Regions from separate parts of the Homo sapiens genome. Here region 1 is linked to region 2. Evidence: fine-mapped expression QTL. Tissue or cell type: lymphoblastoid cells. Region 2 holds a variant in brackets; the other region holds the start of a gene. All regions are shown on one strand. Distances are from middle to middle.

The links. PIP is the estimated chance that this variant, and not a neighbour inherited with it, causes the effect.
Region 1: it holds the start of HPS1, and the variant in region 2 is fine-mapped to the expression of HPS1 in lymphoblastoid cells (GTEx, PIP 0.95).

Annotation. Positions count from the first base shown.
Region 1 is chr10:98,445,294-98,447,974 of GRCh38, reverse strand. HPS1 (HPS1 biogenesis of lysosomal organelles complex 3 subunit 1) reads left to right here and starts at 1,040. Exons shown (of 20, transcript NM_000195.5): 1 at 1,040-1,168; 2 at 2,571-2,675. It overlaps HPS1-AS1 (HPS1 antisense RNA 1), which reads right to left and starts at 1,654. Exons shown (of 3, transcript NR_134454.1): 1 at 1,218-1,654. RefSeq lists a silencer at 873-1,222.
Region 2 is chr10:98,361,000-98,363,680 of GRCh38, reverse strand. LOC105378449 (a long non-coding RNA gene) reads right to left here and starts at 2,427. Exons shown (of 3, transcript XR_001747305.2): 1 at 2,145-2,427. RefSeq lists an enhancer at 2,335-2,629. The variant G/A (reference allele first, on the strand shown) is at 1,383.

The DNA.
Region 1 (2,681 bases), 84 kb before region 2:
CCGAACGTCAGGGAAGTGCAAATAAAATCACAAGACACCACTCCACGCTGGGTTACTATACTTAAAAAAAAAAAAATCAACAATAACAAGCATTGGTGAGGATGTGGAGAAATCAGAATCCTCATACATTGCAGTTGGGAAATGGAAATTACCAGTAGGGGAATGAATAAGTAAATAACAGCATATCCATTTGATGGAATTCATTCGACCACTGAAAGCATAGTGAGTGAACGATCTCAACGGTGGGCTGAGCAAAGAGATGCGTGTGGCAGGGCTATGTGCTGTAGATGGGGAGTTGGAAGAATTTGCCCTAAGGTGGGCTGGAAGGGGTGGGTAGTGGGTTGGGGGGAGTGATGCTCTCTTTGATCTGCAGGTGGTGGAAGTATTGATTCTTAGCCTCTGCCTTTCCCCCAAGAGATGCTCAATCTACTATATCCCCAGCCAGTTCTTGCAACCCATACCTTGCTGGGCTGGGCTCAAAGCTCCCAGGTGGCACCCAGGCACTGAGGGGTGGACTGTTCGGGGATTTAGGCCCTTCCAGAGCGCCCCCTCCACTTCCAGGCACCCCCAATACACATACGATTTTTTAAAATAAATATTGCAAACATAGGTTCAACACAAAACTCCTAATGTGCACTCCACTCCCAAAATAGATTGAGAACTCCTATAAATTCCAGCGTTGGCACTCTGGGGGCAACTGAGCCCTTCTGTGCGCTATGTCACCTCCCCAAAGGTCAGGGAGAGCAGTCACAAAAGGACAGCTCTAGCCCCAGAACTTCAGTTCATTAGGCAAAGCCTGAGGTTCCGGGGCATGGGGAGGAGAGAAGGGATCAGCTGAGGAGCCAGGAAACCTGGGTTCTGAGCCTGGTTCGGACCCTCAGCAAGTTATTTCTTCTCTCTGCGCCTCCGTTTCCTCTTCTGTAAAATGGGGCATGGGCAAGGCCTGGCAGGGGCGGGGCTCGAACCCGCGGAAGGCGACGGCGGCTCCGGCCCCTCCCGGGGCGGGCGGTCACGTGCGCGATCACGCGGTCCTACCCGGAAGCGCGCCCGGGCTCCTGCAGGCGGGGCGCTGTGCGCGCCGCGATCCGGTACGTGGGCCTCCGGGCTGTCCCCTCTGGGGGCGGCGATCCTCCCTCCGGAGCCCCCCTTCAACCCTCCCGGAAGTGAGGTAGGGTCCCTAGGGGTCCCGGAGCGGGCCCACTCCTAGCCTCACCCACTCCGGGCGTGTGGCCGTGGGCCGGTCGCTTCCTCGCTCGGGGCCAAAGTTCCTCAGCCGTGAAGAGGGGTGGATGTCACAAGTCAAGCCTCCTTCCCAGGGTGGCCGTGAGGTTCGGGGGTGGGGGGAGGTGGGGATTTGGGGTGAAACTGGACAGAAACTGGCGTGCTAGGCAAACGGGAGCCCCGCGGCGGCGAACTGCTGACTCGCTCTCTCCAGAGACTCAGGGGCAGGGCCGGGCTCCGAAGGTGTGGGACCCCAGAAGGAGCTGCTGAAGACGGGACCAAGGGCCACAGGGAGGTTTGCTGGGGTCCAGATGGTGAAAGTGGGCGCTGGGGGTCGCCCCAGGTTGGCCCCCCGCCATCTGGAGCTCCTTTCGTCAGTGAGTCCCCTCCGAGTTCCCTTTCTAGGGCAAGATAGCGAGGTGAAGCGGAAGTCTCAGTGTGACACCGGCGAGGTTCTCTTCCCAGCAGCCTTTGGGAAGCATCCCCCTGTTTCGGGAATATGGCATTCGGGCCAATCATGTGGGTGATGGAGCCCGTCTCAGGGTTCGGCTGCTAAAGGCCGAACTCGTAACAGCAGTCTCTGTGGCGGGTAGTCACTTGCCTCTTACTGGCTCACAGTGCTTGACTTCCTAATTAAGTTTTCTGTTGTTCCTGCCCTCTATTCAAATATGAATGATTCCGGAACCAGATTGATTAATCCTGTTATTTGAAGAAGGGAAGCTGGGAAATAGGAATAATGATCCCCACACCTATGTAAGAACGCAGTTTGCTAAGGTTACTTTGCAGCTTGCCTGGTCACTCCCATGATCTAACCCTGTAGGGAGGTAGAGTAGGGGATGTTGCTCTGTTTCTCCGCAGGAGTTTGAGGCTCAGAGAGGTTTATGGGACTTGGCAAAGCCAAAACTAGAACCTGGTCCCAGATGCCTTTCCTGTTAGTTTCCTTCCATTCATCGTATCATCCCAGGATCCCCACTCCCTTCACCGGGACTGCATCCTCACCACCTGGGATGTGCTATGCTGTCTCCCGTCAGTCACTCCTAGCAAGCTCCCTGGGGCTGCTTGGGGAGCTCTGAGTGACCCGCAGAAGTGAGAGCACTTCATGGGAACAAAGGAGGAAGGAACAAAAGTGGGCACCTGCTCTGTGCAAAGGGCTGTGCTGGCCGGGTTCCTATTCTCCATTATGGGAGGTGAGGGGCAGGATCCCAGATATGTTCTTAGCAGACTGCCTCAGGGCCTGGAGAGACCAGGGACCACGCAGCCCTTCTCCAGCTTGTCCTTTCTCAACGGGCAGCAGTCAAGACCAGGGCATCTGCCTGCCCTCATATTCTCTCTGTTTTAAGCATTTGCAGGACCAGGGATGCTGTGCTGCTCTCCCATGAGCCAGTCACCGAGTCGGTCTGCTGCAGCCCTTTCTGAACCTCTGGCCGTCTGGATGCTCCACTGTGCTTGCCAAGGTAGAT
Region 2 (2,681 bases):
AGGGCTTACAAGAGTATCGGTTACTGGTGATAATTCTGTCTTTTAAGCTTTCTGGTAAGTGCTTGGATATTTGTTACGATTTGTATGGATTTCATATGCACTTTTAAAAATATATTTTGCATATACATATAAATGCACAGTCACATGATTAGATCAAGTAAGAGAAATAACAGACTGGGCACAATGTCTGACATCAGCCTTGTCTCAGCTGGGCGTTTTCCTCCAGGGCCACCTCCTGTCTGGTTCCTAGTTGAAGGACCCGTTCATGACTTCCAGTGCTGTGTGGCAGTAGCGACCCAGGACTTGGAGTTGGAAGACCTGTTCTGCCACTTATTAGCTATCCACATTTTACTATTGTTGACATTATTGTTCCCGGACCAAACTGAGGGTCAGGCTGCTATTTCTCATGGCCCAATAACGAGATGCAGATGAACTAGGGAGGAAGATAATTTTTATTTCTGCAACCTGTTACAGAAATTTTTATTTCTGCAACCAGGGAGAAGGCCTGGAAATTATCACCAGACCAACTCAAAATTACAAAGTTTTCCAGAGCTTCTATACCTTCTAAGCTACATGTCTACATGGAGGTGTGCATTCATCTAAAGACATAAGTGATTAACTTCTTTTCATCTATAACTAAGGTCTGAGTCTTGAAGACCTTCCTCTGGAGCCTCAGTAAGCTTACTTACTCTTGCTTTTTTTTTTTTTGAGACACAGTCTCGATCTGTCGCCCAGGCTGGAGTGCAGTGGTGCGATCTCGGCTCACTGAAAGCTCTGCCTCCCAGGTTCACGCCATTGTCCTGCCTCAGCCTCCCAAGTAGCTGGGACTACAGGCGCCCGCCACCACAGCTGGCTAATTTTTTTTTTTTTTTTTTTTTTTTTTAGTAGAGATGGGCTTTTGCCGTGTTAGCCAGGATGGTCTCGATCTCCTGACCTCGTGATCCTCCCGTCTCCACCTCCCAAAGTGCTGGGATTACAGGCATGAGCCACCACGCCCGGCCAGCTTACTTACTCTTAATGGGTCCAGTTGCTGGAGTGATTACCCTTATCTTCTCTCCTGCTGAATCACAGGTTTTAGGAGTTCCTCCAGACCCCCAATAAACTTGTTTAATCCTAAATGGGTCCTGTTAAGAATTCCTTCATTATTCTGTCATGCTTTAAGGCCCAGGAAAGGCCTAGACAAAACTCTTGGTGGGCTTTTGTTACATCCTAGCCTTTGTATAAAGGCACTGGCTTTTAATATTTAACTTAACCACTCAGTCAGTACTGAAGCGGTTGTTATGGAGGCCTGTGTGAAACTTGGCCTGCTACAATATTAGATTCTCCTCAGTAAAATGGGGATAGCAACTGCCTGCATTAAAGTGTTGACATGGCTGGGTGCC[G/A]TGGCTCACGATTGTAATCTCAGCACTTTGGGGGGCCGAGGCAGACAGAACACTTGAGCCTAGGAGTTTGGGACCAGCCTGGGAAACATGGTGAAACCCCATCTCTATAGAAAATACAACAATTAGCTGGGCACGGTGGCGCATGCCTGTGGCCCCAGCTACTGTGGAGGCTGAGGTGGCAGAATCACCTGAGCCCGGGAGGTCAAGGCTGCAGTGAGCTGTGATTGTGCCACTGCAGTCCAGCCTTAGCAATTGAGTGAGACCCTGTCATAAATAAATAAATAAATATATAAATAAATAGTGTTGACATGAGGGTGAGAGATGATGATGATGAATACCAATGTTCCAGAAAGTTCCATGTTTTATTAATGGCTTCCATGACCACCATCTCCAAGGCTCCAGTAATGTGTCTCTGTGCCTCTGGCGCCTTCTTCAATCTTCTATGTCCCAGTTTGCCTCAGAAGCTCTGGTATTGCAGTCCTCAGAAGCTGGCTGACATTCCTCTTCTGATCAAGCCAGGGAACTGCCTCTTAACAAAAGCTTTGCCTCCTCCGACCCCAGGCTGTCAGAGAAGGGACCTCCTCCTCTGGACATTACCTCTCGTTCTTTATCCCTAGACGACACCTGCCTCTGGGGCCCAGAGCCCCAGAAACCAGGTGTGTGTGACTCTCTCCCAGGCGACATAGTCCCTCCCTCCGGAAGATGCTCATCTCAGGCTCTCTCTACTTTCACTCCTTTTAGGAAACCACACGGTGGCCTTACCCCAGCTCTCTGAGCAGTGCCTAGTCATCCCAGCTGGCCTCATTCACTTTCAGGAGGCACTAGGGCATATTAGGCAAAGCCCCACTCAACCCACGTATCTTCATTATCACTTGCTGTGTTACGAATGACTCCAAAACGTTTATTATCTTGCAGCACTGTGAGTCAGGACTTGAGAAGTGGCTTAGCTGGTGGTTCTGGCTCAGGGTATCTCATGAGGTTGCAGTCCGGTTGTCAGCCAGGACCGCGTCATCAAGAAGCTTTCCTGAGGCTGAAGGATCTGTCTGCAAGCTCACTCCCAGGGCTGGCAACAGAAGGCTCTTGTTCCTTGCCGGCTATTGGCTGGAGGCCTCAGCTCCTCACCATGTGGGCGTCCCTCTATGACATGGCAGCTTGCTTCCCAGAGGGAGTGATCTGAGAGAGCAAGCAACGCCAAAGCCATGGTGTCTTTTTAAATATTTTCAGATTCCTCATTATCTTTTATTTGGTATTTTCAGAAACCATACATAGTAATACTGACAAACTCGATTTTAATGTTTG